2 linked regions of the Homo sapiens genome follow. The protein of the gene in region 1 interacts with the protein of each later gene in a pairwise test. Each region holds a gene or a part of one and is shown on either strand. Other genes may lie near its edges.

Region 1 (16,109 bases):
TTTTCCAACTCTGATGGTGACTTCCAATTTCTGAAAAATTCTCCAGTAGGGGTTGCTTGAAACAGAAAGAAGGAGACGTGTGTGTTAAGGCGACTGAATGGGGCTGTGGTGGTAGCACTAACGTACCTACTTATGAACCTGGTCAGATCCTTCCTTTCTCTTTGTTTTAGTTTACTCACTCCTTCTAAACTGAAAGGCAGTAAACTCTAGTATCTGTAAGATGACTTCCTTATCTAAGATTTTAAGGTTTTATAATTTAACTGTATTACTTTCCAATTATAATTCTACTTCATGCTGAAAAGAAATCCATAATCTAGCTTTTTTCGTGTTGGCAAGGTTAGTTCATAGAAACCATCTTAAGAAACATTGACATGATGGCACAAAATAGAGTGATTATTGATAGCAATCAACTCATTGTATACATTAATCAAATTATTCTAATGCGTGCCAAGGTTTCACATGCTTTTTTTTTTTCAAACAAATACTGAAAAGTCTTGGAGAAATCACACAAGAATATAATAATCTTTTATGTGATTTTACCCGTCATCAGCTTTCCCCTTCTATCTGAACATTTAAACCTCTCTAGATAACAAGAGTTTTACTATAATATTCAGGAATAAGATTCTTCCTGGACTAGGAGGATGTAGGGGGAAATGAGCCTCTGTTTTCAGCATCCAATCTCTGAGCAAAGGATCTCCCACCACCTGCTGCTTCCAACAAGCCCAAACTCTCGCTCCAGCTAGCTTTCCTGGGAACAGAGCAGAAAACTGGAAGGGAGGGGAAGAAGGCTGGTGAGAGCAAGAGGCGGGGAGTGAGGAATGGGAGGCTGGAGGAGGCGTGGCCCGGCTTGGGGCCGTCGGGATAAATACTGAGAACTGGGTGCGGGGTGTAGGGAGAGAACTCTGGAGGAACGCTGAGCTGAGCAGCACCGAGGACAGCGCCCGGCAGCGCCCGCGCCCAGGTCTCCCTCCGCAGCCCTGACTCGCGCACACGCTGAGCTTTTGCTCACTCCCCCTCGCGCGGACACAGACACACGCATATTCACACACCCAGACACACACCCCGCTGTACAATGGCAGAATCCCACCTGCAGTCATCCCTCATCACAGCCTCACAGTTTTTCGAGATCTGGCTCCATTTCGACGCTGACGGTGATTATCTTCTCTTTTTAACTGTTTCAAGACCCGTTTCCATGCCCCTTCCCATTCTTTGCCCTTTTCTGAGCCTCCTGATCCCATTATCCCTCCTTTCTATTCTTTACTTCTTCCCCCTTCTGCCTAATCTTATCTTCTTATCTCCCCGACTGGCCGCCAAACTGTCAACCTGAAAGTTTATATTGTTTCCACCGTAATCCCAAAACCTTAAACTTTTGTCTTTCCAGGAACGGTAATGGTAGGAGAGAGAGAGCAGGGATTGGGGAATGCTGCCCCCCCAAAGTTTCTGTGGCTGCGCTTAGCACCCCAACCATCCTCCTTTGTCCTCAGTGGATCTAAAGTTTGATACCCCAGGAGGGGAGCGCTTCACCGTCTGTACACTTTGCTGGTTAATCAACGTCCAGGCAAGAGAGAGCCTCTCGGGTCGCCAGAAAGATAACTGTCTTGGAAAGTGAACGGGAAAGACACTTGGAATGAGATATCTGACACCTGGGTGCCTCTTTGTCTTTGCAGGAAGTGGTTACCTGGAAGGAAAGGAGCTGCAGAACTTGATCCAGGAGCTCCAGCAGGCGCGAAAGAAGGCTGGATTGGTAGGTTCAAGTTTGCGAAAAAGAAAAAAAGACTTTTAACCCCCAAATTAAAACATTCTTGTGTTTTCACAAAAAGCCAGTAGCGTAAAGCGCTTTCTGGGTAATGTAAACGTTTATTGACTGCGAAAGGCAAGAAAAAACACTTTTCCAACTCGAATACAGAGAAATGGGAAAGGGGAAAGAGACTGAGAAAGAGAGAGGGGGAGAGAGAGAGAGAGAGAAGGGAGGGACAGAGAAGGGAGGGAAGAAGGGAGAAAGGGAGACAGACAGAGAGAGACAGATTTTCTAAAGGGAAAAACCTTGCTATCTGAAACTGGAGCTTTAAATATATATATATTCTATACTAGTACTTGCATTAATAGGTCTTAAAAGGGAACTGTGGGTGCATGAGATTCTTTAGCGGATCACCACCTCTACCACTGAGTTTGATTAGGTAATTTTTAAATTCTCTTTTACTGTGTGAGAAATAAGGGGGTGGAAATGCATTTCTGCCCCTTGGTGGTCAAGAAACAGATCTGCAGATTATGGATCTCTTACTCTATCACCAATTATTATTGTTGTGATGTTGATGTAGTTGGGGAGATGAGAAAACATCTTGTCCTCACTAAGGGTAAGTTGCCCAACTTGCAACCTAACAGTGAGAAAGAATTTAGCAAGAAAAGATCTTCATTTCTGTTGAAAGCAAGAAACCCAAAAGGTAGAGAAGTAAAAAGTAAAACAATTTTAAGAATTTCATGTATTGTAAAAAAAGCAAAGTGATACTCTGATGGGCAGCAATTGATGGTGTTTTGAAAATGGCTATGTTCGTTATTTAAGCCATTAGTTAATTAAACAAATAACCATTCTTATTAATTATAAATGACTCCCTTTGGGCATAAATTAACCTGTTAAGAAAATATGTTGTCAGCATAAATATAAAATACAGTCAGCTTTTAAACATAGATGAGATGGTTGTCCAGAGGAAAATGGGTTAAAAATTGTACTACTCTATTGAGGTTTATGTAACACTGCCTTTCAGAAGGCAGTGTTGAATTGGGATGAGTTACACGTTAATGGTCTTTGGCCTTTTTGACTACGTTTAGAAAGAGATTTTACACTACCAATGATGTATATATTATATAGCAGATCACCACCTCTAATATTGAGTGATATATATAAAATTTAATAATAGAACTTTTTGCCCTATCTAAATTGAAAATTGTGTAATATACATTTCTGTACAGCATATTCAAAAGAATCCCAGAGGGCTCTAAATGTATTATAATGCACTATAGAACTATCAGTTACAAAAATCATTGACCAAATTGATTTTAAACCAGATTGTGCTCTAGGGATTGTTTTACCCAGATTTAATATTATATAATCTAAAAGTATAATAGAACGGAATAAAATAGCATAAAAATGTTTTATATACTCTCCACCCTCCCCATGTCTTATATATTGCCATGTAAATAAATTTATGCAATACTGTCATTATAGCTTTATATATCTTTGGCTAATCTAATAAAAGCAATTATCTTCCTCATTTAAAAATACATATTTTAAAATCAGGTTGGAAAAGTCTTACTTTCCATAAAATTTAGAATTAAAACCTTGGAAGATGCTTCCAGCAGGTAATGATTATATTTTATTTTGTGCAGAAGTAATTTTAATATTGAAATCTATTTTCAGCTTAGAAATTTAAATATTCATGAACTTTAAAAAAATATTTTTCTTCCTCTGATTTTAATATTTGTACCTTTTTGTAAGCAATATCTTCATGTTGGAGATTTAGAATTTAATTATTTTTCTCTGTTTTGGAATATTCAAAGCTCCAATTATTAGACTATAATGTAATGATACTAAACAAGCATAGTTATAGGATTATATCAAGTTGCTTAATACCTTGATTCTTGAGCATTTTTCTGGAATGTAAATACAATCTGGATTTTTCTGAATTTAGTATTTTTCTTGATTTGGGTAGTTAAAATCTAAATCAAGATGTGGATTCAGAGTTTCATATAGTAGATACATGTTTCATTATACTACTAACTTCATTGCATTAAACCTACTTGTATATATTTCTTCTCTTTCTTTAGAACATAAAAATTGCCCTTATAAACCAGGCTTTTTGCATTTCTAGCCATAGGATAACAGATTTCATTGCATTAATGGAAACATTGTTTGGCTTTTCGTATTAATAACATGAAATTTCAAAATTTTCACTAGGTGAATATAACATTAATTAAATATAACAATGCAATATATTTTCAGAAACTATCCTTTTACACTAAACATAGTGTTTGGTCTTTGTAGTTGCACTCATTTTTATACATTTTTAATTGGTGGTGATTATATGTTTTGCACTGTTTAAAAAATAGATTTTGACATACTTGTCAGAAACTTCACAAAGTAAATGTCAAGTCTGCTCGTGAAAGTAGTGGTATTACACCATTTTAAAATTTAAGGACAGATGCTTTGGTTTTTGTTTACGTTAAGATGTATGTAAAAATAAAAAAACTGTAGGACCTGATATTCCCACTATTGCCATGGTTGAACACTTTCATTTTCTTACAATTGTTTCTATAACAAAATTAGATAAATACAAATTGTAATTTATCCATAGTAAGTTTTATAAAGACTAAAATATAATTATATTGCTTTGTTATTATTTATTATCTTAGTTCAACTAAAGATGTCTACATTGGTTCCAAACGGCTTTTATAAATACTAGTAATAATGATATTTAGTCTCAATATAGCCCTTTAATTATATTAACCTATCTATCCCCAAAGCAAACTTGTGTGGTAGATAATACCACCATCTTGTTAGCTATGATGAAAACCGAGACCTTAATTTGCTTTCCCAAGGACGTAGAATAGAACATTAGTAAGGGCTGACCTATTTTAAATAGGCTTCAGCTAATGCAACAGGGCTATTTTAAATGGGCTATGTTGGAGACCCAAGGGTAAAAATTAAACCTCCTGAATACCAGTTCTATGTTCAGATCACTAGTTTATAGTTCATAGCTCTCTAATCTATTTAATTTTTAAATTTATTTAATTGATGAATGCCTCTTTTATGCTTAAAACAATCTTTGCTTACAAAGTGAGTTAATCTTTAACATTCACATTTTTTGCTTGTTCAAAATGAAAACATATATTACTCTCCATAGATAAAACATTATGTTAGAATGAGAAAAATGTTGTAAGACAAGATAGTGTAGCAATATAAGGTAATCTTTAATGAAGCAAGCATTGTTTAAAATATATTGATGGTGATGATTATGTTAAAATTCACTAAAAGTTATGAATGGAATGATTCTGACTACACTTTCAAAGGATAGCATAGTCTCAAAATTAATAATAGAAGATAAATCATATTAATTGAGAAATAATCATGATTACAACTCTTTCATTTGGAACTAATAAATACTGTGTATCAGTTATGCCTTTAATTTTTTTGAGAATAGTTAATCATTATGCATATTTCTAAATGGTTCTAATTTTGGTTTTTCTTTGCAGTAAGTTATTAACACCATCACAAGCATAACTGGTATTTTTTTAACAAACCTCCTACCTGCTTTTATATAATTTTAGGAGTTATCACCTGAAATGAAAACTTTTGTGGATCAGTATGGGCAAAGAGATGATGGAAAAATAGGAATTGTAGAGGTAAGGAATTTATGCATTTTTCTGATTTAATTTTAATAAATGAGTTTCAATTTTGAAGTTGTCTTCAAGTCAAGTAAGATATAGCAAGACCCATTCAGTACAGTTTATTTTACCTAAGTAATACATTATCTTCTGTTCAGAAGTATAAAGTTAAAAAATGTTCACAAATGAAAAACATCTAAGAGTATTCCTAACCCAGGGCCTAAATTTCATATATTACAAAATTGAGACCATGGAAAAACAAAATTGTTTGCCTCTGGTCATACAGCTATTTGCTGGCACAGGTGCAGTTAGAGGAACAAGTCCCTGACTTCTACATGAGTATCAATCACATTCCATTACCCAGCCCCACTTCCATACAGTGTCTAAGCACATGGTCCATCAGTATTTCTTATCACTTAACAGTGTAGACTTGACTTTTAAAATATAAAATAAAATGTTTGCAGTCCCTGTGAAATATTTACAGTCCTTATTTTTCATGGCAAAAAGCTGCATCCTGGTTTGACAGTTGGCCTTCGTAAAAACAGAATAATTTAACTAGAGTGAGTGAATATTTTATGATCTGTTATAGGTACAGATTTCATGTGAATCTTTGAAAGTTAAAACTGTGGGTGTCACATCTTATCCTTTCACAGTGACTTTTCCTATTAAGGGCAACTTATTTTTGTCTGTGAATCAAGGAAGCAAAACTGATTATGCATCAATTCTTCTGCATTCTCAGATTTGTGAAAGAGCTGTTGCTTCCCTTATATCTACGTTTCCAGCCTGTGGTGTCTTAGCCTCTTTCTTTATCTCAGCAGCCTATTAGAGAAATTGGGTGGAAGTCTTTGTCCAGAAAAATTAATTAGGTCATAATTTGAAATATGCCAAATCATAACATAATTATGTTATTTATATAGTGTTTCTCAGTGTATTAGATTGTGAAGTATTCTGGATCTCAACAACATTTAGTAATAATTTACCTTTGATTCAGAAAAATAACCTGGTTTTCAAATAATTGATCTTATAGGACACTTGTGATGCCAGTGTGAAATACACTTATTTTTAAACAGCTGATACAAATAGAGTTAAGAGAGGACATACTATTATTATCTTTGTAATTAAAAATTTTCCCTGGAGTACATACATTCCCCTTTACCCGTGTGTAACTCATTACTATATAAATAGATAATAGTAATGGGACTTACAGATAGACATATAGGCCAACTAATCAAGGTATGAAACCATCAAGGATAAGAAAATAACTTTTAAATTAAACATAAATGAGATGAGGTAAATCTAATTATTCAAAACTAGTTTGGAAATATGACATCAGTGAAATTACGGATTGGCTCTTTTAGAGTTTGACATACTTTATAATCCTAGTTAAGGAAAACCTGTCACCTTACATTTAACATACTTCTCCTTGAAGGAGTCCAATGGACTCAGCTATTTATTCAATTTCATTTCTTCAGTGATACTAGATTGTGCAGTAAAAGGCATTGATCTGATTCACATGGATTTTACATTTTTATAAGGATAAAATGGATGAGCATGTTTTGAATCCCGGTTTTACTTTATGTGATACAGTCTAATCATTTATGACTTATTATTTCAGCGCTATTTTGAATGAGAGGTTAGAGGCCATTTAGCAGACGCATTGTCCTGGAGGTTTAATGAAGGAAATTTCCTCAGAAGTTTTAGATAAGGAACTGTTACAGGAAAGAAAAGGCTTTCTGTGGAAGGAAAGATATAGAAATATAGGTAACAGAAGAGGACAGAGAAGGCGATGAAGTCTGAAATAAAGAAGTGAGAAGCTTTTATAGCAACAAAAATAATAAAATAATTCACATTTGTATAAAATAAAATTGACAAAGTGTTTTCAAATATGTTATCTCATTTGATCATCATAACTAGAAAATTAAGTAAATTTAAATATAAAATGAAGATCTATTTTATAGTTATAGCATGTGAAGCTTCAATAGGATTTGCCTAAGGTCACAGAAAAAGTAAGAAATAAATGGTAGAACAGTCAGAACCCAGCCATGTTCCCCCAAACTATTCTGCCTTTTTTAAAATAATAAATAATCTGTACATTTTCTGCATTAAAAGGAAAACTTTTCAAGCTTCAGTTGGTTGATTACTTATGGCAAGTTTCTAAGTTTATCTGGGATGAATAGGGATGCACAAAGTGTTCTGCAGAGAAGTTATTTGGGCAAAGCACTCGAAACATAATTTCAGCAGAACTTTTGATCAGCTGAAGCAGAAATAATTTAAAGGGAGACAAATGAGATACATATAAACTGATTGGAAGGTTTTAGTGTTCCAGGACATGGAACTTTTTGCTAGATGGGACTCTTGGGAAGAACTAGCCAACATTCCTTATTTTAAGGATGAAGAAACTGAAGCCCGAAAAGGTCGAATGATGTATCCAAGGTCCCATTTGCAGGGAGTGACAAATTCTATATACAGACTTAGATCTCATTCCGATTTTAGAACTCTTTTCATTAATCTTAGTTATCAGCCAAGACATAGGAGTAAGGGGTCTGGAAGAGGGCATTAGTTTGAGAGAAGAGAAATGGAGAATAGGAGGAAAAATAGGAGATTGCTTCAATAGTTCATATGCATGTTGGTTCACTGTGTGATGGTTAAGAGTGAAGAAAAGAGAAATTCTGAAAATAATTGGGAAATAGAAATTAAAAGTTACAGATTACATGTAGAAAATGTGGAAAGGGAGAGTAGGAAATGTCTGAACTTATATTTTGCTCTCTACTGTAACCAGAAAGCTGTATTAAATGAAGTTCATCCTTTCTTTTTCCAATTTGACATATATCACTTGCTTAGAAATCCTATAAATAATATAGAACACAAATACACAAATTCTAGCCAGCTATAAAGGAATGCAAAATCCTATGTTTTCTACAATTTATAATAATCTACCTACTGACATCAAGCACACATTAACTTTGGTGTTCAAAGGGAAAGGAAGATGGATTTACTTATATGTTATGCTTACTTAATAGTTATACTCACAAACTCATCAAAATCTAATCAAAGTAAACCAAATGATACTCATGCAGTGGTCTGCGTCCCTGATGGAACAGGCCAAATTGGTTTGTCTCTGAAAGATGTCATTCAAAAAGATTAGAAAATGTAATGGTTAACTTTCAAAGTTCTAACGTGACAAAGTTAGCTGACACTTTCTAACAACATGCATTTGCTACCTAGAAACAAATATGTTTCTTTCTGAACTTTCTAATTTCTTGCCTTTAAATAGATTTAAAAATCCACACAAATACAGTTTAGAAATAACGAGATTGTTAACACAAACTCAAGACAGGAGCATCGAAATTTTGAGATAATTTAACAAATAATGTGATGGTCAAAAAAATGTTCCGAATTTATTCAGACTAATAGCTCTACTGCAAAGAAGGCTGATTAAAATAATTAAAAAGGAAGACTTAATGATTTAGCAGATAATAGAGCTTTCTTCTCTGGTGTTCACATGAAATATAGGTATTTCTCTTAAATGGGTGTCAAATCTGTAAGTTTTTCACCTGATCCTTTTGGCAATGTGTGAGAACCTACCATCCTCTCCATTCTTACTGTTTCTATCTGTCCAGGTCAGTGCATCCATTGAAAAACAGACCTAAAAGCTATTTTAGTCCTAAAACTGTAACAACCCTCCCAGGGAAGCAAGCTCTTCTCCAGCCTTTCCCTCTTTTCATCTGCAGTGGGATTTGAGCCTGTGAGTTTAGCCATAGTGAATATAATTTTTCATGGAAGACTACTTTTCCACCACAGAATTTTGGGAAATGACTGACAATGAAATCTGATTTTAAAATTCCCTCTGCATAGATCTTTCTAAGTGATTTATTAGGGATACTTTTTTGATTGAGGATTTTAATGGAGGGTGATGAAGGTAAGGGACAGAGTCTCTAAGCCAAGAAAGTCAGACTCTGCCTTCAAATCTGGCTCCAACTGCAATCTATGTGAGAGCAGGCCATTTACCCTCTTTGAGCCTCTGTTTCCTTGGTAGTGAACAAGGATGACAATGTATTAACTTCATAAGGTTGTTATGATCATCAGTATCAAATAATACATATTGAACAAGTAGATTGACCCTGGCACACTGTAAAAACTCAACAAATGTATTTGCAGTTATTGTTACATATAAAAATAACTTACTACAAAATCGACCCCATCTTCTGAATGCCAAGCCTTTTCCCCCACTTATTATATAATTTGTCAAATTCAAATTATTAAACTGAAAGAGCTTTACATTTTTGATAAAGTTATTTACCTTTCAAATTTCCTGGACTCACTTCTCACTGGCTAGGGAAAACGTTTTTCTGGTTCTCAAGTGAAAAAAAAAAATGAATGCTTGGCTAATACATGTTCAAGAATGTTAACATACCATGATTGTCTTTAAAAGTTAGGAATTCTGCCTCATGTGCACTGTGATATAATTTGTATCACTAATGAAGTTGCCTTTCATGTATACTCTCCTCACAACTAGTACTTAGCTTTATTGTTGTTTTTATCTCCTGCTTTGAAATTGTCAGGGGAAAAGTTGTTTGAAAGTATCTGCCTCCCTATATGGTTCTCACTAGTGGTGACTGTGGTCACCAGCACAGTGCCTAGTATTTAGTAGCCAAATGAGCCACAGCAAGGGATTTCAACTTACTCCAAAACATCAGGCAAAGTCTCTGTATTACGCTAGAAATAAAAGAGAGATGTAAAGTCCCCTGTTATGGGTAGAGTTCCCTGGGAAGCAGATCTGAGTGGAAGAGTAGCAATGAGCAGGTTTATTAGGAAGTGCTCTTGGGATCAATACCCCGGGACAGAAGTGAAGAGAATAGATCTGGGCAGAGGGAGAAGCTGGGCTGTGTCACAGTCTCAACGGGGACATCAGCTGACCCTACAGTGAGTTCTGAAGCTGGGATGACCCTTCAGGAATGTCTCTAGTTTTGAGTGAGACCGTTGGGCCTTTATATCCCCATGTTGATCAGTCATAGGATGCCACCTCCTTGGGGACACAGCTGTCTTCAGCCCAGGTATTCCTTCAATGGGGCCTCACAGGTGAGGCTGCAGCAACACTCCCAGCACTTGAAGGGAGTTCTGGGTAGCATATCACAATGTCCACCCCAACCCCTATTCACAGCTCAGTAATAAGTTATTGGAATTATCTCCAAAGGAACTTTACCTCCATTTATTTACAGCCTATCCTGATGCTAAACAAATAGTTAATTACCTTTATATATTGCTTCAATAAAATATTTACTAAAATTTGTGCAGTTTCTGGGCCACAAAACAGTAAATAAGACACAGACCCCATCCTCAAGGAGCACGTAGACTAGTAGGGGAGACAAGCAAGTAGGAAGTTGTTGGTTTTTTTTCCTACTCTTGATAACAAGCAATCAGTTCTCAGAAATGAAGCTCTGAGGGATTCTACTTATTTCCTTAGCTACCTGCCTTCCACTCATCCCCTTGATATTCTTCACTCTCTTTTCCAACTCATAAAAAAGTTTTGGGAGTTCATAAAAGAGCAGGCAGGCAGCCCAAAGATTACAGAATCACCAATAATATTGTAATAAGAAGTATTGGATACTTCTATAAACAGCAGTGACTTAGCATATCTGAGAATAAAGCAACTCTACTTAACACCTCCTATATGAAAGACCTTTGGCACATTATAGACATAGTCATAAAGGCTACAGCTGGAGAATTACTGTGCCCAGCTCTGAAACTTGAATATTGATTCATACGCATTGAGAGAAGAACCGAGAGACAACACAGGACCACCACATTGTGAAACATATCTTAAGAAAGATTTCTTTACATTCACTATAGCCACATCCTATATACACATAATAATTTTTATATGCTTAAGACTCCTTTCTAACATTTATAAAATAGGATGGTATCATGTTGAGTGTAACATTAATGGTTCAGTGAAATTAAAACAGATTGAATATGTTGCACATTGATGTAATCTGTATTTTTTAATAATTTAAGTATAAAACCAAAGCAGTATGGGCAAGAAATACACATTTATAGTAGACATGAAGAGCATTTTTACTATCTCTGTATCTGACATTCAGGAGACCTCTCAACTTTATGTGAGTTACATGAACTTTTATGTTGAAACAAAGATGGCAATTTCCCTAATTTTACATTTAGTGATTGCTTACTAGTTCATTCATTTGTTTTTTTCTGTTTTTATGTATTCAGTGAATTTGGAGATGTAAAATATTTAAAGAAAAATTATTCTTTTTTGTTCAAAGCAACACACACTAATTATAAAAATCCAAACAAAATAGAGAATTATGATGAAGATAAGCAAAAAATAACTCAATTCTTTTAAGTAGATGTTTTTAATAAAGTAAAATTACCAACCAATCCGCAAGCATTTATTTCAGGCATATAACATGCTAGATACCATGCTGGGCATTCAGGGGATGCAGAAAAGTATTATTCCCTGCCCTCTTGAAATTAATGGTCTAGAGGAAGGTCACGCAAAAATTGTAAGAAGTATCTAACAAGTTGCATACTAATAAATAAAGGACGAGTTGGGGTTAGCTATTTCCTGTTTCCTAAATGAACACTTATATTCATGAAAAAAACATAATAAAATGTGGCTAGACCTTCTATATCATGCAGAACCCTCCAAAATGTATACATAACATCCATTTCCATTGTTCAATCTTTCCCTCAAAATGTCTGCCTCTGATATATTTTCTTCTCTTTGATGTGTTTTATTGTCTTCCATCTTTGTTCCCTCTTCTTTCTTGTGTTACTTTTTCTTCTCTTCCCATCTTCTTTAAAATCCTCAAGGAGATATTCTTCAGAATCCCTCCAGGAAAGTATTATTATAGAAGAGGCCAGGCTCAACAAGACTGGAGGGGTGTGGCTCTCCGTCCTCCAGAGCCCCTCTCCATGCCGAGCCCACCCACTGCCATTCTCCCTCCCTTCTCCTCTTCCCCCTTAGCTCTGGGGGGAGACCTACATTCTAGGCCTAACTTACCAGATATCTGGATACTTTATAATGAAAATCATTTATAGCTACTTTCCACTAGGAGCCCACTTACAGATGAGGAAAAAAAAGGGATTTTTATAAGGAAAATGGTGTTCTAGATTTCAATGAGTAGAAACAGCTTATCATATTTAAACTATCTCATTGTCACGTGTAAAAATCACCAACAAATTCATTATTTGCAGTCCAAGAGCAAAGAAGCAACCAAACCACTCTATTACTGTCTTCAACAAGCATGTTGTTGACTTAATCTACTAATAATCACCAAATTAAAGTGATTTTCAGTCTGCCAATCATCAGGTCATCATTCAACCTCTTTGGGCCTTAGCATCCTCAATTGAAAAATTTGGTCTTGAATTAAATTAAATTATGTTATTTCTGAGGTATAGAATTTTATGATTCAAGTATTCAAAGGAATTGAAAGAATGCAAAGGTCACAGAAGTATGTCCTGAGTTTAATAAGGGACCTGGATAACACACACACACACACACACACACACACACACACACACACACACACTGCAATGATGCAAATGTGTTTATGTACCAAAAGCTAATTACATTTTTTTAAAAGCACTGGCACATTATAAACCCCCATTTTTACTTTTTAGATATATTATCATCTACCCACACTAGTGACCTTTCTTTAAAAATAAATAAGAAAATGTTTTATAACTAGGTCATATTAAACATGTTGACATAAGGTTTGGCCCTTTCCCTTAGTCTCACCCACATGTGTGGTGCGTATAAATCGAGTGGTTTTAATTTGAAATATTATTTCAAAAATCTAAACATAAGATAAGCTAAAGGGCATACACAGGCATAAGAAAAATTAGATTCCTTGCATATAAAGTAGAATAGTGCATTTTATATTAAATATTAAATTTTTAAATGAACCTAAAAGGATGAATTTTTTAAAAAAAGTTATGATAGTATTTTCTATAACTTGGTAGAACTTTTAGAACTGACTCTGACTTTAAGGCTGATCTAGACTACAGGCTGTTGGCCTAAAATCCACGGATGAGGGTCCGTCCATGCCCGTGATCTAGGGAATTCATCAAATCCTGGAAATTAGATGAAATATAGTGTGTGTAGATTCATTATTTAATGGTGAAAATGCAGTGCTTCCAACAGAAGGCGTTTTGAACCCAATATATTCAAGAAACACTGGCTTCTATTTCAAGTCCTTGTTTTAGTGATGAGGGTACTGAAGTCCAGAAATGGCTCGGGGTTGCTGGGGACCACAGCTAATTAGCTACTGTGCCAGAAATAGATCTCACATCTGTAGTGGAGCCATCAATCCAGCTCCTTCCTTCTCTGTACGCAATAGATTAGTCATAAAATGGGATATGGAATCCTTTTTTCTTCCAAAAAAAAAAAAAAGAGAGGAGGATTGAAGTTTTGAAATGAGATCTAAGGGAAAATGTCATAGAGGCATGCCGTGGAGATCAGAAAATAAACCCCAGCCCTGGATTCAAGCAGTGGATGTCCTTTCAGCAGAAAGCAACAATTTGAGAACTGGCTTTTCCTATTCCTGTTTAACGCCCCACCATTCATGGTGAATTTCTTTTCCATTGCCTTACGATTGTCTTTGGTTTATCTTCTCTTGTATCTCATGGTAGGCTTTCTCCTCGGGCTTGGGAATACATTTTCCCCCTTCACTCCCCTCCCCAACATTTATGTTCCTCATGGTTTCTTTCACTTCACATGAAATTTATGGCCCCCACATGTGCCTTTCTGTGACCCTGTGAGGAGAGAGGAGAGAGGCATAGAACACTAATCTGTGGCATAGAACACTTGAAGGGTTCAAGCCACGAGGATGAATCTGCCTGAATGTCCAGCAGACAAGAAGTGGCCACGCTAGTTCTACCTGAGCACAGGTCTGCTGCGGCCACCTCACTGGCCAAAGAACCAAGCACACAAGGGCACACGAGCGTTGGAGAATCGACAGCGCTCCATAGGAAAGTACCAGAAAGGGAAAGCCGACTCTAATGTTTTTCCTCTCCTACTTTTCTAGCCTGTGAGGGAACACGTTGAAGAAAAACTAAGCAGCAGGTAATGGCAGAGACTTGTTTTTGAGCAACTTACAACACGTTTCTCTCTTCTTAAATCTTTTCCAGTTGGCTCACGTATTACCCACAGAAGAGAATTTCCTGCTGCTCTTCCGATGCCAGCAGCTGAAGTCCTGTGAGGAATTCATGAAGGTATAAGAAAGCTGCCCCTTTAAGAAAGCTGCTTAAAGTAGGAAAATTGTTCCTTTTATTAAAAATGTGTTTGTTTTCCTTATCCAAAATTACTTACAGACATGGAGAAAATATGATACTGACCACAGTGGCTTCATAGAAACTGAGGAGCTTAAGGTAAGCAAATAAAAACTTGTACTAAGTTTTTCCTTTCAGATGCAATTATGAACTAAGAGTTTCCTAGCTTTTTAAAAAACCTCCCACAAAAGAAACTAATGTTGAACAGTGTCACATTTTCACCTACTCTTCGACATTGTTAATGAAGTACCAGATCAAAAAAGCATCTTCAATTGCTTCTGGAAATTCTGTACAGTAATGCAAAAAATTAACATTTTTTGTGGTGTACACAAATATAAGACAGACAGACAGATAGAATTATAGATAAGCCGAATAAGCCATTCTTTTATTGAAATTTGTAGTTTTAGTTCTCAAAATAAACACATATATATATAAATTTTCTTACAAAAGAAAGAAGAAAAAGTTACTGAATAGCTACTGTATGCCAACTACTTTACACATAATGCCTTATTTAATCTTTGCGTAAGTTGTATGACATTGTATTACCCCATTGAGGAAGAGTTGAGAGAAGTTAAATGATATACTGAAGGCCACACAGAAATCGGACAGAGCCTTGATGTGCAAATCCAGGCTTGTCTGCCTCCAAGGCCTGTAGACATTCTACACAACCTACTGACTCTCAGCAATGATGATAAAAAATAAAAAATCTTCTAAAATTAAACTTTTGAAAAACTGCAACTTAGAGAATGAATTTATCACTTCGGATATCACAGAGGAGGATATAAAGGAAAAGGCAGAGATCTGAAATCAAGTCTTAACTCATTAATTACTATATCTTTCCAATTTTCTTTAATCTTTAAAATGAGTGTAATAAATCCTTCCTCTCAGGCTTATTGTGAAGCTCCAGTAAGATTCTGCACATGAAAGCTTTTGTGACATGCAACATAAAATAAATTATATTATTCATGAACTCAATTTACTAGCCTTTCAGGAATATGGAAGTATTCTTCTCATTTCCTCAAGCCGACCCCAAAACATCGCCATCTGAAAGACCCTACTTTTTCTATTTTTAGAACATAGAGTGACTAAAATATAAGTGAGTTAATATTTACTGACTATCTGTCAGGCAGAGTACAAGGTGCTTGAAGTGTATTTTAAAATTTAATCCTCACAGAAAATATGCAAGGCAGGTATTATCACTCCTAATATAAAAACAGTGAGATTGGAATGCAGAGAGATTTGATGATTTTTCAAGATTACACAGCTGCCTAGGAAGAGAACCTGGATTTGTACCTAGAATATCTGATAATGCTAAGAATGATTCCCCACCCCACCCCCACAGCACTACATGCTTTCAGACTTCATTTATTAAGAGCTGCTCTTTTGCTATGTGGGGAAATATGAATATCAACAGTTCTAGTCATAATTCAACATAG
Region 2 (16,578 bases), on another chromosome or scaffold:
TGAAACTACCCTGCTTCCTAGTCCAGGCTGAGCTATACCTATGGCTGCTCTCTCCTGCATTGAGATAAATCTCCAATCACTCAGTTCTCACTTGCTTTGCAAAATTCTTTTTCCTGGTCTTTTGCTTTCTGCTACATACCTACATCACCTTCTGTGTATTTTCAGCTCACCAGGACAAAAATTTTAGTAATCCACAAAGAGTCAACCCCTCAAATATAGCTACAGTTGTTAAATATATATATTCAGAAGTGCTCATTAGAGTCTACCCTTTCTGTTGCACAAAAAGGAGGTTTACTTTCTTCAACAGCAGATTTCTATATTTACTGTGTACCTCGAATCAGTCCTCTTCCTAACCCTAGTTTTCCCTTGGCCACCACAACACAGAATGGCAGGCCCACAACACTAAATGGAGCCTCAGAGAGTATTTACTTCAGCCTGATACCCAATCCAGACATCCTTCTGCAGAGTGTCTGACAGGCAGTCAGACAGCTGACACATTATTCCCATGGGCCCATATAGACAGCACACAGAAGAGGGTGCAGGCCAGCAGGGCTGTCTGTGTTGCCCAAATACAACAAAAATGGACTCAGAAATGGACTTGGAGCACAATTTTCCTCCTTTTGAGCAATAGAGTTTACCTTGAACATCCCACTAAAAAACCCTGATACTTTTTGTAAATTACCAAAAAATTTCACAAAAGCACAGGCTTACTCATGCCAAGCACTCTTTCAAAGTTTGTGTGAGAAAATCCACAGCTCCCTGGACAAATGCTCTTGTGCTCATTAAACCCCATCTGTGGCCTCCTGGTCTCATGTCTAATTTCTACCTGGGTGTTTAGGAGCCTACACCTGCTGGAACCCAGAGCGTGGCATCGTCCCTGAGTAGCATGGCTTCGTTTCCAGCACCATCACCCCTTGATGCAATTCTCTCTCATCCCCTTCTGAGGAGAATCACCTGTAGTAGTTTTTGCTGGAGGATGGTGATGTCTCGAGAATGAGTGCGGTTGCCACCACGAAACTTAAGGGGGCGGTAGACGCAGCACGTAGTAAAGCAGATCATGTAGAGCAGGTACAAGGCAGCCAGGATGCAGAAGTACGGCCGGCCATACTTGTTCCACTTGAAGCTCACCAGCTCCTTCACTGGGGTCTGTTCCAGAATTTGGCGAGCCTGGCATGGAAGTAGAGTGAAACTTGGGGTGACCAACACAGAAGGATGTTGTTTATCCCACTGGGGGCCAGAAGAGGCAGGGCAGCAACCATCACTCACTCAGCTCATCAGTCACTTATTTGACGGACAAATAGTATATTTCCTGCATATGGCTGGGCCTTGTGCTAGTGATACAGGTAAATGACTATAGCAGTAAACACAAGGCACCATAGCACCAAAGAGGATTTAAAGGATGAGTAGTAGTTAGATGAGTAAAGGGAGAGTTAGGAAAGATCATACCATAAGCTAACAGCAGTTGCCAGGTCAGGAAGGTCTGAGAAGCCATTGCCCATTTGCAGTTGAGATGTGGTTGGGGAGAGGGGAGAATCTATTGGGAGTGGTAGTCAGAAATGATAATGACTGAGGAAGAACAGGGCCAGGTCATCATGCATCATAAATGCCAAGGTAGGAAGTTTGCATTTTTTGTTTTTTCTAAATATAACAGAAAGCAACTGGGGAGTTCAAGCAGGGAAGTGGTCAGATTTGCTCTAGAAGTATTATTGGGCTGGAAAGAAGCAATGGAGGTTACAGGCAGTAGGATGTGGCAGGGTGGGATGGTGCTCTGAAATAAGCAGCCAGTGAGACGTTAAAGATACACAGGAGAGGGGATGATGGACGGGAGGAGGCATCTGAGAAATTAGAAAGAGACAGATTCAAAGCACAGTAGAGTGATTAGCCATTAACAGCATGAATATCTTTTCTACTGAAGCTGGAGGGGAGGAGAGAGACAGTGGGCAGTTTCCAGACATGCTCGGCAGTGTAGGGCAGGAAGCTGAAGGATCCCCAGCCAGAAAGCCTCTATTTTTGTCCTAAATCAGGAGTCTAGGTCTTCTGAACTGCAGCTGAAGGTAGTGAAGGATGTGAAAGGGGGCTAGAAAGGAAGATTTATGGAGGAAAAAAGCAACTGACCCAAGACACTTATGAAACCTGCTGGAGAATATTGAGAATAGCTTAAATCAAAGACCAAGGATATGTGGTGGCGAAATCCACACAGTGGGATTGTGCTTTTAATACCTAAGAAATCCTGCTCAAAGTGTATCTGTTTCCAGGGATATTCTCTGAGGAAGATCTCACAAACTAGCCACTCAACTTTTCTTCTATTCGTTAGTATTAATAATCATTCATGTTTTCTGGATCTATAAGGATTCCTGGGAAATTGTCACTGTGGCAGATACAAAACAGAAACTACATCTTGGCACTCTCATGGAACGTTCTGAAACCTGGAAGTCTTTTCTCCTCTCTACTGCAGTCTTCAACAAATTTTCGTTTCCCTCACATCACTCAACCCAGCATTGTTGAATGGTCTATACGTTGCTCCCTCTCTAAAAAGCTCTTTTTTTTCTCTCATCTTCCTGTGACTCCCAATTCTTCCTTGAAGATCCAGCCCCAGCATTTCCTCTGTGACATCTTCTCTGGTCTATCCAAGCCAAGTTAACTCTACCTCAATGTGGCTGTCTGCATGCATGGTACACACAACTATTACGGCATATGTCATGCTCTGTTGCAATTATTCAGGACAGGGACTGAGAATTGAGGAAGTTGATGAACAGGAACTGTGTTGTATTTATTTCTGTACTGTTTGTTTCTTGTGCAGTGCCTGACATACAGCGGGTGTTCAATATGCTTGTATTAGTCCATTCTCATATTACTATAAAGAACTACCTGGCACAGGGTAATTTATAAATAAAAAGGTTTAATTGGCTCATGGTTCTGCAGGCTGTACAGGTTCTGGAGAGGCCTGAGGAAACGTACAATCATGGCAAAAGGCCAAGAAGAAAGCAGGCACATCCTACATGGCCGGAGCAGGAGGAAGAGAGAGCAGGAGGAAGAGAGAGCAGGGGGAGGTGCCACACACTTTTAAACAACCGGATCTTGTGAAAACTCACTATCACGAGAACATCAAGAGGGAAGTCTGTCCCCATGATCCAATCACCTCCCACCAGGCCCCTTCTCCAACACTGTGGATTACAATTTGACATGAAATTTTTGCATTTGGACACAAATGCAAACCATATCAATGCTGAACCAATGAATGAATATGAGGAAACAGCTCTTATTTGGAGTTTCTCATCTGAAATGATAGAAGGCGAAAGGTAGGCAGAAGGGACTGGAGCTAAGCAGAGAGACAGGGGATTCAGGAGAGGAGTGTGCATTGGACTTTCCCCCATGTCCCAGGAGACTATTCTCATCTCCACCTATTATAAGGCTGGGAAGTGTCTCAGGCCCAGGATCTTAGTAAGTGGACAGACTCTGCACAAACACTAAATTCCCTCACATGACAGGCCTGATCCTCCTTGGCATCCATACCTCTCGTTTATCAGAGGAGACCACAAGCTCCAGGAAGGACAGCTCCTCTCCCCAGGAGTCGATCTCCGTGAGGTCGTAGAGAATGGAGGTCAGGGGTCCATACGTCCACTGGATGTGCCTCCGCTTCTGCATCAGGTGCTGGAACATCTGAGAGACCACCAGGATGAGTCAGGGGGCCAACGTGTGAGAAGGTGGTCGAGGAGAACAACTCCATTGGATGGAGCCAGTTGCCCACCCCTTGAGACAGACAGACAGTGGGAACCAGCAAACCTCTGCATCTACAAGCTTTCCCTTTTTTGTCATCTTTCCTGCTCCAAAACCCCAGAAAGTGCAGAAAGAAGAAAATAGGCAAAGGAAGCTAGAGCTTTGGGTTATCACAGCACATGCATTAAGGTAAGGTTCTCAAATCCTCTTGAGTCAAGGACCATGAAGCTGAAGATTTCAGTGATGGAATAGGAAGCAAGGGACCACCATCCCTTTGGGGAGTTTGGGGAAAAGGGATTTTAGAGAAAGGTGGGCCCTTCACCTCTATTTCTCCCAGGGCCAGCAGGATAGGTTGAGGGTCATTAGAAAGACACCTCAGGGATGGGGAGCGTCTCTTACCACAGTGTTACCCTCCACTCCAGCCAGCTTGAAGGGGGTGAGACCCTGGTGATTGGGCACAAGGTCCAGGGGCTGCAGGTGGTCCCCATGTCCATCATAGGACAGCAGCAGGTTGTACATCTGGCAGGCAAAGGTTTTGTTGGGCTGGAGGATGAGGATGTGTAATACTGTGTTTCCTGGGGAGGACGCAGGGTATCATGTGGCCACTGGCCTAAAGTCCCTGATGTCCCCATCCCCACTCTGGGGTCTTCCTAAAGGTCCCAGCTCCACTCCTTACCCTGTCCCTCGCTCCCCACAGCATCCCAGCTCCCCTCCCCATCCCAGCTCTTACCCAGGGAGTCCTGGGCCCTGATGTCAGCTCCATGCTCAATGAGCAGCCGCACGATCTCCTCGCTGTTCACACAGGCAGCAAAGGACAAAGGGTGCTCCCCTGTGGACACAGAGAGATCCATGGCAGGAGAACGCAGGATGGCAGGATGGGGTGGGCAGTCTCCCCCAAATAAGGGCCTCCTCCTCATCCCCCATATCTCAGTTCTAGGCTGAGGGACACTCGTCCAGCAGAACCAGAGGAAGGAACCATCAGGGGAATGGGCCTCTGGCTTAATTAAGCCCTAGAAGGGCTGCCCCTCTCAACTGCCCAACAGATGGAGCTGAAGGCAGGACCCTCATGCCCTGGCCTCCCTCTGCCTTGCCCGCCTCTCCAGCCAACCATCCTTCAAGCCCAACCCTGCTCTCACCAAAGTAGATGAGGTTGCGGGGACTATGGCGGAAGGCAGTGCCTGTGGCTCTGGCAGAGACACTGGCCCTGCGGGTGAGCAGGGCACGCACCAGGTTCACATTCTGGTTCACAACAGCGATGTGCAGTGCAGTCTGACCTGGCCCAGAGACAGCCATCATCAGGGTCTCCCTCTGTCCCCAGTTCTCTCAGGGACACAGCATCCCCCACCATCCCTCTCAGGAGGTTCCTGATAGATCTTTGCTAGACTTCTGCCCTGGGCTTGGCAGGGTGGCCTGGGACTAAGAGCAATTCATCCCTCAGGCTGCCCTGCTCATTGACCTACCCTTCAGTTATTGGGAGCCAGCAGGGGATTGCTATGAATATAATCATTCTCATGTTGCTATGAGAGAAAGAAATTGAGATAGGTCCTACAGGGACTATGGGAGGTTTGAAAGGAAATGCTGAAGGAAGCCACAGATTGGTAAAAGCCAAGACCAGGACCTTTGCATTTCTCCCAACTCAACGGAGCCCATCCTCCTGACCCTCCATCACCCCACCCCAACCCATCCTTCAGAGGCCAATTTTAAGAGACAACAGCACACCCTCCATCTCAAAGTTTCCACCTTGAATTACCATGTAGGCTCCTTACCTGCAAAAGCCTCACATGTGGTGGGCTCAAAGACCAGCTCTGGGGCAGCCTCCATCAGCACCAAGGCCGCCTCCAAGTTGTCATAGAGGGCTGCTATGTGCAGCGCCGTCTCCCCCAGGGCTCCTGGATTGGAGTAAGACAGAGATGTTAGACACTTTTCAGATTCCCTTGAGGAAGGGGCCTCAGGCTCCAGAGACACCCTCCAAGGCCCTATTTCACAAACTCGAAGTCTTGGGGAGGAGGAGTAGGTTCTTCTGCCCCCACCTCCATCCCATTAAATCCAGATCCCACCTCTTTGTCGAACGTCACAGGTGCAGTCCAGTAGAAGTTGCCTAAGAACAGACAGGTCATTTTCCTTGGATGCTCGAAGCAGTGGAGACTCTAGAATCCTGGGGAAAGGTGAACGTGAGTTTGGAAGAGACAGTCATAGCAGAATGAGGCCAAGAGCAAAGGGGATCTAAGACATTCTTTAAGACCAACGTGACTCACACAGCGTGCAGTGACAAATTGGAAAGAAGTGCCTACTGGACTCGAATGACCGAGGGTGGACTTGGGCAAGGGTCAGCCCCAGGGCCTTCCTTGCAATTCACATCATGGTGATTCTCCTGTGAGGATGGCCCTTGAAGCTCTGCTGGAGGGGAAGAGTTAATAGGAAGAGAACCTGTAGTCTGGAAAGAGTGGTCTGAGAGTCTCTAAGAAGAGGACCCTAGGCTTGGCTGAATTCATCTAACCTGAGTAACTGTCTCAGATCCTGGATAGTTGGAGAGCGGGACAGAGGGCACTTCCATCTGCGGTCCCCCTGCTCCTGGGCCTGCTGAATCTACTGTCTTTAACCAAGGGGAGTTTGGGAGACCAAAACACAGAGGGAGGAGGAATGGATCGACTGCTAGATCTTTCCTAGGCATTTTGAAATTTGTGAAATTTGTGAGGCACTAAAGTTCTGACTACTCCCTCAGGCTATTTTTTTTTTTTTTTTTTTTTTTGAGACAGAGTCTTGCTCTGTTGCCTAGGCTGGAGTGCAGTGGTACAATCTCAGCTTACCGCAGCCTCTGCCTCCCAGGTTCAAGCAATTCTTGTGCCTCAGTCTCCCGAGTAGCTGGGATTACAGGCACGCACCACCACGCCCAGCTAATTTTTTGTATTTTTAGTAGAGATGGGGTTTTGCCATGTTGGCCAGGCTGATCTCGAACTCCTGAGCTCAGGCAATCCGCCTGCCTTGGCCTCCCAAAGTGCTGGGATTACATTGCGCCCAGCATCCTCAGGTTATTTAGATACAGGTCCCTGCAGGGGGTGGAGAGTTGTGGGGTGAGTTACAGGGTGCCTCTTTCTTCTGCATTATACCCTTAGATGCAAAGGTCTAAACAGCTTGTTTATGTGGGTGTCTCAAGGCAAAACAGGTTGAGATACTCATTCTACAGGACCTCTGTTAATCTTTGCTTCTACCATACCCAGATTTGAACCCAGAAAGAGATAAAGCTGGAGCCTCTCCAACTAGACATATGTGTATTGGCCCCAAAGGCAAGCACATGGTGTAGGGGGAAGAACAGAAAGGACAGGCCGATGAGTGGCTCCTCTGAGGTCCCCACCTCCAAATCCCTCTCTTCCAATAGCCCCAGGAGCCAGGGCGAAAAAGTGTTTTTATTTTATTTATTTATTTTTTTTGAGACGAAGTCTCACTCTATTGCCCAGACTGGAGTGCAGTGGTGCGATCTCGGCTCACTGCAACTTCCGCCTCCTGGGTTCAAGTGATTCTCCTGCCTCAGCCTCCCGAGTAGCTGGGACTACAGGTGCCCACCACCATGCCTGACTAGTTTTTTTATTTTTGGTAGAGACGGGGTTTCAGCATGTTGGCCAGGCTGCTCTCGAACTCCTGACCTCAGGTGATCCACCCATCTCGGCCTCCCAAAGTGCTGGGATTACAGGTGTGAGCCACCACGCCCAGCCAAAGTGTTTTCATTTAAAGAAGAAGCTTTTAATCTAAAGGTGGGGCCTGGTTTTACCTGTTAAGGCAGTGCTCCTAGGAGGGGCCTTTGTGAGGAGTCAGTTCCCTGCCCCGTCTCACCCAGGGAATCAGTCCCAGGGAGCCTGGTGTCCCTGACCAGCCTAGAGTGGTCAGGGCTGAGATTGCAAATTCACCCCCATCCTGAGGCCACTGCACAAACAAAGTCCTTGCCTCCCTGGCCCTCTATCCCCACTGCCCCTCTGCAGAGGGTCCAAGTTGGGGCTGGAAGCTCACTTTCTCAGAGACCCAGGGGTCCCACTCTAAAGCAGGAAGGTGAGATTCCACTGGAGGTATTGGGTGGGGAGATGAGGAAGCAGAGGGCTTGACAGTATGAGGGCTCAGAGGTACTTGGGACCAGGCCCAGTGTAAACTGCAAATGCAGGACCCCTTGTTCAAAATTATTAAGAACTTGAAGATGAGGACAGCAGGGCATTGAACAAAGCACAGGAATCTTCTGGAGTACAGGGGAGCCCTTTGTGACTGCTAATGTCTGCTCAACAACCTCACCCCTCAGGCAGCTGTTGGGTGGGAGGCAAGCCCCAAAACACTTGGAGGAAGAAGCAGCCCACAGGATTCGTCCCTGCCCCAGCTGCTCTTCCTGGGACTGGACCTCAGGGCTAAGCCATGAAATGATTTACCTGCAGGTGTGCTAGCCCTGCCCGAACTAAGAGCTCTCCAGGAGCAGGCACAAGTCTCATTCAATCTTTATGTCATTGGGATCTAACACCCCTCTGCACACAGTAGACTCAATAAAAGGCAGATGGACTGAACTCAGAGCCCTCCAGTGTCACCTGAGCTGCCCTCCTCCACTGGTCAGCACCCAGTGTTACACCAAACAAAGCGCTCCTCCCCTTTCCCACACAGTCCACTTTCATTCAAATGAATGGCGTTTCCTTATCGTGCTTCCACCACCCACAGGAGTGCATCCCTTCTTCAGCAGCCTGCTTCTGCCTTCCCTCCCCATCCCACACAACCTGGCTTCTTCCCTCTGGTCCTTTTTGGTCCTTTCACTCCCCCTTGGCTGTCATTCTGCCTCTGTCCTTAGGTCTACCCTCAAGATTTTCCTGTGTGGCCCAAAGCCACATCCTCCACCGCCACTAAAAGGGGCCAGCTGGGATTCTGTAATTAGGTGGGCTGGAAGGAAAGGGTATGTCTGAGTGACTGGCACTGACAATACACTTCTAGGGTGCTGTATTCGGAAAGCAGGCCCAGGTGGGTCAGAGGGTCTGAGGATCACGGCGGTAGGGCCACGGATCGTTCTAGGAAGCCTACCTCTTCTGCTGCAGCATATGAAGCTTGTCCAGGTGCTGGTCCCAGTCTTGTTCTCTGACCAGAAAGGAGGGCAGAAGTTTCTGGAGTTGGCTCCCGGGCCCTTCTGCCTTAGGTAGAAAACCCCCCATGTCTTCTCCTTGCAGACACTGGCAGATTATAGAAATGTGGCGAAAGAAACAGGTCTAGGATGACAGCAACTGAGCAAGAGATGGGGTCTATTTGGGGCTGGGACTCTGAGTTTATCTCCTGTATGACTTGTGTATGCAGCATGCAGCTTGTAGGTGTGTGTGTGTGCATGCAGTATGTGGGTTGTGGGGTGTGCGTGTATGCACAGTGTGTGGCTGTGGTGTATGTGTGTGCATGCAGTGTGTGGTTGTGAGGTGGTGTGTGTGCATGCAGGTGCGCTGAGGGGACTGACCGCCCTGCCTGGGGAGAAGTGCTTTTCCTGGAGGGGGAGGAGCTCTTTGCAGAGCTGAGCCCCACAGCCACAGAACCACCCTGGGGAAGAAAAGGAGGAGGGGAAGGAAGGTTCCTAACTGTGGGCTGGGATGGCTGAGACCCGAGAAGCTAAGAGGTGGGGCAGAGGAATTTGGAAAAAGAAAAGGGATGGAAGGTGGGTCCACAAACAAGGTGCACAGTTAGTTGCATGAGGGAGAGGAGGAAATAAAGACTTCCAGCTCAAGAGTCAGGCAGAGCCTGGTTCAAATCCTGACTCTTATCCCTTACAGTTAGGTGAGCTTTCTGAGCCTCAGTTCCTAACCTGTGAAATTGGGGTAACGGCTATGCCGTCTCACGGGAGCATCTGTAAAGCATGTGTCACAAGTACTCAATCACTGCCGATCCTCCTTCCACAAGAGGGCTCAAGAGACCCCCGGGCTGCTTCTCAGAGCTTCCCATTTATGTGTCTTGTGGTCATCTCTGTCCTCAACCCTGTACCTCAAAGGAGGGTTTCTGACCCCCACTTCCCAGGCCAATCCCTCTCTGTGAGAAGTCCTCATGACCGTGACCGGCCAGCTTCCTGGAGCGTCGCCGAGCAGGCTCTGGTACCTGGGGACGCAGGTCAGAGGAGCCCCCAGGGGCCTCGAGTTATTATGGAGGTTGAACAGCAGAAACTGAGCAAAGGTAGACGACAAATAAATCGTGATTCCATGTTTGGGACTCTTTCCAGGAATGAAACACCAGGAGGAATAAGTAATGTTGCACTATTTTATATATTTTATATTATATTTTATATATTAAGTAGTTTCCCTTATCCACAGTTTCACTCTCTGATGGTTCAGTTACCTAAGGTCAGCCACAGTTGGAAAATAGGTGAGTACAGTACTATAACATATTTTGAGAGACAGAGAGAAAGAGAACATTCACATAACTTTATATTATTATAATTTTCATTTTATTGTTGTTAAACTCTTTTTTTTTTTTTTTTGAGACAGAGTTTCACTTTCGTTGCCCAGGCTGGAGAGCAATGGTGTGATCTTGGCTCACTGCAACATCCACCTTCCAGGTTCAAGTTATTCTCCTGCCGCAGCCTCCCTAGTAGCTGGGATTACAGGTGCCCACCACCACGCCTGGCTAATTTTTGTATTTTTAGTAGAGACAGGGTTTTACCATGTTGGCCAGGCTAGTCTCGAACTCCTGACCTCAGGTGATCTGCTTGCCTCGGCCTCCTGAAGTGCTGGGATTACAGGCGTGAGTCACTATGCCCGGCCTAAACTCTTCACTGTGCCTAATGTATAAATTAAACTTCATCATATGTATGTATGTATGTATGTATGTATGTATGTATGTATGTATGTATGTACGTGTAGGAAAAAAGATAGTATATACAGGGTTTGGTGCTATCTAAGGTTCCTGGCATCCACTGGGGCGTCTTGGAATGTATCCCCTGAGGATAAAAGGTGACTACTGTATATGATAGCTTGTATTTATGTTCTCATTTTTTTTATTATTATACTTTAAGTTCTAGGGTACATGTGCACAATATGCAGGTTTGTTACATATGTATACATGTGCCATGTTGGTGTGCTGCACCCATTAACTGTCATTTACATTAGGTATATCTCCTAATGTATCCCTCCCCCCTCCCCCAACCCCACGACAGGTCCTGGTGTGTGATGTTCCCCTTCCTGTGTCCAAGTGTTCTCATTGTTCAATTCTGTTCTCATTGTTTTCAAAGAGGTACATCAATATTATTGAATTGCATTCACTCAATAGACCTATCAGGTAAATGAGAACAAGGAAGAATTCCGTCTGTGAGAATTCTTGGGTGTGCTGGCCCCAAGTCCCATGGCTAGTGGCGAGACTGTAACTGGCCATGAACTTGGGATCTCAGCTCCAAACCACTCTCCAGACCTTGTTGCTTCTTGGGAATCTTTTGGCTGTAAAGGTGTGAGAGACCAGCGTGAGGATACGCTGGGACTCTCCCTCTGGGGGTCTTGAGGAGTGGGGACTGCCCCCTTCTTTTGTTGTAAGAAAGAGAGATCTGCTCCCAAGATTGAGGGATGGACAAAATAACCTTTAGAGAAGGACAAGAATTGAAAGGAAAATAAATAAGGAAACTAAGAGGAGCTAGTGTTCATTGATGTTTCAAAAGGGGGAAAATTTGGATCTTTTTCTTATTAAAAGCCAAAAGGAAAAGTTAAGTAAAAAAAAAAAAAGATACAGTGGAATTATGTTCTCACTGGGAGTGGGGAGGGCTCAACTTGTGGGACATTTTTCTGCCTCGCTGGGGGTGACGCCCTTGTGGAGTGACTTCCAGTCTAAGGAGATGGAGGGAGCGATAAGGGTGAGGTGGGGGTTGTAGATGCCTTGATAAGCGAGGCAGGTCAGGAAAGGAGCACCTGCCAAGGAAACTACAACCCATAAAGCTGGTCCTGGGGCGGGGGGGTTGGGACATGGGGGGCCGGCAGGGGAGGAGGCTGGCCCAGTCTGAGCTGCACAGAGCAGGTGTGCAGGGACTTGCCGCCAAGGGCATGTCCAGGGGTCTGGGGAAGAGAAAGGGGAGGCCCAATGCTCAGGCCCCCCCACCCGCCATCCCTGGGCCTTCGCCCTCTCACTTGCCCTTCTCTGCCTACCTCGTCCTCTCCAGTGGGAAGGGCATGGACAAGTAACCTGGGTGAGGACCATGGTGTCCCCCGGCAGTCCCAGCTGGTAGACCAGAGATTTGGAGTCTCTCCTGTTCTCTCCTTGCCTTCTCTCCAGACTGTTTCTTCCTCTTGTGATATTCGACATCACCATTCTATTTTTCCTTTTCTCTCCTTTCTTTTCATGCCTCTCTCAGCTTTCTGCAAGTGAGGACATCTGCAAACTCTCGCCTTCAGAGAGCAGCTTCCCTGCCACTGATGAATGGTCAGTAATGCCTCCAGGCACTCGGGAGAACTGGGCTGGGGGCACCAAACTACACCGTCAAGTCCCAGAACCCTTCACGCCAAAGCAGCCTGACCTCTTATTCTAACATAATAAAGAGGAGGAGGAACCATAATACCTAGATTTCCATTTTTAAAAATTACACTCCCACCCTACGTGGCCACAGCCATCTACGAAAAGGATTCAGGGCCGGATGCGGTGGCTCATGCCTGTAATCCCAGCACTTTGGGAGGCCGAGGCGGGCGCCTCACGAGGTCAGGAGTTCGAGACCAGCCTGGCCAACATAGTGAAACTCCGTCTCTACAAAAAAAAATTAGCTGGGCCTGGTGGCAGGCACATGCAATCCCAGCTACTCAGAAGGCTGAGGCAGGAGAATCACTTGAACCCGGGAGGTGGAGGTTGCAGTGAGCTGAAATTGCGCCTTTGCACTCCAGCCCAGGCAACAGTATGAGAGACTCCATCTCAAAAAAAAAAAAATAGAAAGAAAGAAAAGGATTCAAATACCATACCTTAAAACTAACTGTGGCCAGGCGCAGTGGCTCACACCGGTAATCCCAGCACTTTGGGAGGCCGAGGCGGGCAGATCACCTGAGGTAGGGAGTTCGAGACCTTCCTGACCAACAGAAAGAAACCCTTTCTCTATTAAAAATACAAAATTAGCTGGGTGTGGTGGCACATGCCTGTAATTCCAGCTACTCGGGAGGCTGAGACAGGAGAATCACTTGAACCCAGGAGGTGGAGGTTGTAGGTGAGCTGAGATCGTGCCATTGCCCTCCCGTCTGGGCAACAAGAGTGAGACTCCATCTCAAAAAAAAAAAAGTGATTATCACTGGATGGTGGAATTATTAGCCTTTTTGGGGTTTTGTATTTTTCTATATTTTCTACTTTGTAATAAGAAAAAATATTTAAGGGATTCCCTGTTTTCTGCAAGAATTTATCTCTTTTAACACTGCGGAGGTCAGGCGGGTGGTGGTGGCAAGGAAATGGAAGTAATGGAAACAACTCAGTTATTTCCACTCAAGCCTGCCCGGGAGGCAATTCTCACCCCAGCCGCCCTCCCCATTCATTCCCACAGAGCTGGAGATGGCTTCTCTTTTTGCCAGGAAACCAAGAGGCTGCTCCCCCAAAATAGCCAGGAGGGAGGAGATTAGTGATGGTTTTTTCCATTCAAGCATCATTCTTTGGATCTCACGTCAATGGGTTCAAGGTGGGGTGAGCAGGGTCACCTGCCTACTTGAATCTTTCCTTACTCACCTTCAAGCGACCTCCGTACCACTCCCTAGTCCCTTGTCATCTGGCTTGGACCATCAGGAAGTGTGTAAGAGATGGTGTCTGCTGTATGTGAGACAGCATCCATGTGGGCATGTCTGCTAACACGAGTAAACTCTGTGGGAAAGCATCTCTTTGTGTGTTTCTGTCTGCAGTTCCCTCTTGCAGAAAGGGTGCCTGTCTCCGCAGTGTCCTTGGACCTGCATGTGGTATTTCATTCAGGTCTGGTATGCATGGATGAGCAGGAGCAGTGTGAACTGGTTATGAGAGTTCAGGAGTGACTAAAGTCTTCTCTTACCTGTCTTAGCAGCCATCCTGCATCTAATGGCCTATGTCTCTGTTGCTGGTTTTCGAAAAAAGGCCTTCATTCTGTCTCCCTAACTCACAACCCTCCAACCATCTCTGCCCAAGAAGCAGTTGGGGGTGATTACCCACAGCCGGTTACTGCCAACAGATCTGTGCTCACCAGGCTCATGGGCAGGAGGCGCATCCAAGTACTGAGGCAGGATTCTCCCAGATCTGTTATTTGGGATCCTAGACTCCCTGCCGCACTGCGGCTTCTCTGCAGACTCTAACTCCTTTTGCCAAGCAATGAGGTTGGAGATGAGCCTCTAACAACCTTTTCTTTCGTCTAAGAGTACAGAAAGGTGTAAAATGAAAGAAGAGGGTGTTTCAACCTGGTGGTACAAGAGGACAAAGGCTAGAAAAGTGGGAAAACCAGGGGAGGGTGAAGAGAGGGTGTGAATGGGCTCTACCAGCTGCAAGGCACCCTGCTCTTTGTCTCTCGCTCTCTCTCCGTTCACTCTCTCTTCATCTGTCTCTCTGTCTCTGCGTCTCTATCTCTCTGTCTCTACCCCTCAGTTTCTGCCTGTCTCGGTCTCTTTCTTTCTCTCTTTTTCTATGTCTCTGTCTGTCTCTGCCTGTCTATGCCTGTCTCTGTCTCTGTGTCTTTTATACACACACACAGCATGTGCTTTTACCCATCCTTACCCTATGCTCCTCCCCATCTTTATTTTCTGGCAGACCCATGCTTCATGTAGAGCAGCATGTTCATACCCACGACTTGAGAATCCTGTCCGGCTCATCTGTTCTGGGCCTCATCCTATGCAAACCACTCTTGTTACAGAAAGGCCACATAGAATAGTGGGAAGATATCATATTTAAAAGTAAAAGTTAATCAAGAGTCCTTTTCTGCCCCTTAGTATTTGGGCGATTTTGAGTGAGAGAGTCATTTTTTCTGTGAGCCTCAGTTTCCTCATGAATGTAATAGATATGAGAACACTATGATTTTGCAGTCCTGGTTTCTACGTGGATCTAATGGTGTAATGGATATGAATGTACATTGCAAGCTGTTAAGTCATTTCTGCTAAATACAGAATGACCCACTGTGGTCATCTTGGAAGCCTCGGCCATCCCTGCTGGCTGTGCTCCATTCTTGTGCCTCGCCATTGGAACGCTCTAGTGAGCCGGAATGAAGTTCAGGCCCATGGCTGTGATGTCACAGAACATGTGAAGTCAGAGGTCCTATGGAAGGTGAGGGGAGAAAATGCCCCTGGAAAGGGTTAAGGGCCAGGACAGGAATGGGGCAGGAGGTGCACGGATCCTGCTGGGCACTGGGAGCAGGGGGCGGCCAAAGGCAGTGGGTGGGCAGGTCCATGCCTCCCCTGGCCCCCCAGCTCTGCAGGGCAGTGTTCCTGGTTCCTATCTTGCTGCTGCTGCAGGTGAAGCCTCTGAACGGGAGCCCAGGCCCCAAAGATGGGAGCCAGACAGAGAAAACGCCCTCTGCAGGTAGGTGGAAAAAAAGACAGGAGCCATACAGAGAAAACACCCTCTTCAGGTAGGTAGAAAAAAAGACGGGAGAGTCTGGAGGCTCAGGGTGAGGTCTGTGTGAGGCCAGGCCCCAGGTCACTGATGAGGCTAGGGTGAGACCTGACATAGGTCTGGTTTATGGGGGGTAACTCCAGCCACTGATGGTTATCATGTGAAATAATAGTGTCGGCTCACCATGGGCCAGCTGAGCTTGCATGCAACTTCTGTGTGTGTAAGCATGGTGCATTTGGCTGGCTTTTGTCATGCTTCAAGGTGGCCCCTGACTCCCCCAGTGTTGAAACCCTAGAGGAGGCAGCTAACCTTAGGAATGGTGTGTGTGTGTGTGTGTGTGTGTGTGTGTGTGTGTGTGTGTGTGTGTGTGTTTGAGTTGGGGCTGTGATTGAACACAGACCAGAAAAAACCTCTAGAAAGAGCATCCCCTCTCTGGTGAAGGCTAAGGATATGGGCAATTGGGACTGCAGCCCTAGGCTTCAACGTGTTTTTCCTATTCTAACTTCTCCTTTCTGGTTCAGGCCAGGGTCAGGGCTCAGTCCTTGTCCTTTTCCCCTGTTCCAGACCAGAATCAAGAACAGTTCGAAGAGCACTTTGTGGCCTCCTCAGTGGGTGAGATGTGGCAGGTGGTGGACATGGCCCAGCAGGAAGAAGACCAGTCGTCCAAGACGGCAGCTGTTCACAAGCACTCTTTCCACCTCAGCTTCTGCTTTAGTCTGGCCAGTGTCATGGTTTTCTCAGGAGGGCCATTGAGGCGGACATTCCCAAATATCCAACTCTGCTTCATGCTCACTCACTGACCCTCCCTCCCTCCTGGGCTCCAGGTCACAACTCCCAAAGGAGATGCAGGCATGGCTCTCTGCCTCTGATCACCATCACTGTATCTCAAGGTTCAGCAGCAGAGATACCAGTTGCCATCAGTGCTAACTGACTGCCTCTCCAGGTTCGGAGTTTCATCTCCCAGGGCCAGAGACAGCAGACCCACATCCTTCTCTCCCACACCTCTCCTGGTTTTGTTCAGGACAGCAGATTAGAGGCAGGAGGCAATGACAATAAAATAACGATAAAATCCTGAGAACAATTGGGAGCAGCTTTCCGATACTTAATCCAAGCCCTTCTCGTCTCCAACTAGACTGCTTTATTGTCCAATCTTTGGTCCACTGGGTGGCCTTCAAACCCACCAGGTCACCAATTGTTGATTCTTTCCTTTTCTTGTGTCCATGAAACATTTTTGGCATTTCTCCCTCTTATCTTTTCTAACTTCAGGGTATTTTTCTCCCGTACAGTTAATGACTTCCAGGCATAGAACATAGCAGGAACAAGTCATTAAGAGACAAGCGGAAGCCAAGTGCCAGCTTTTATTTT

What was found.
Region 2: the proteins of CALB1 (region 1) and TRPV5 interact in binary tests that used the Homo sapiens proteins (3 or more experiments, as listed by UniProt).

What each region holds. Positions count from the first base shown.
Region 1 is NC_000008.11:90,067,661-90,083,769, reverse strand, and holds the start of CALB1 (calbindin), read left to right. Parts: upstream 1-890; 5' UTR 891-1,072; coding exon 1,073-1,151; intron 1,152-1,667; coding exon 1,668-1,744; intron 1,745-5,322; coding exon 5,323-5,397; intron 5,398-14,532; coding exon 14,533-14,616; intron 14,617-14,715; coding exon 14,716-14,772; intron 14,773-16,109. UniProt on the Homo sapiens protein: Buffers cytosolic calcium. May stimulate a membrane Ca(2+)-ATPase and a 3',5'-cyclic nucleotide phosphodiesterase.
Region 2 is NC_000007.14:142,924,575-142,941,152, forward strand, and holds the start of TRPV5 (transient receptor potential cation channel subfamily V member 5), read right to left. Parts: upstream 9,173-16,578; 5' UTR 8,886-9,172; coding exon 8,758-8,885; intron 5,873-8,757; coding exon 5,775-5,872; intron 5,607-5,774; coding exon 5,484-5,606; intron 4,992-5,483; coding exon 4,854-4,991; intron 4,547-4,853; coding exon 4,448-4,546; intron 4,293-4,447; coding exon 4,117-4,292; intron 3,661-4,116; coding exon 3,514-3,660; intron 1,168-3,513; coding exon 955-1,167; intron 1-954. Other genes in the region: sperm-egg fusion protein LLCFC1 precursor, read left to right, coding at 15,048-15,180, 15,778-16,013. UniProt on the Homo sapiens protein: Constitutively active calcium selective cation channel thought to be involved in Ca(2+) reabsorption in kidney and intestine. Required for normal Ca(2+) reabsorption in the kidney distal convoluted tubules.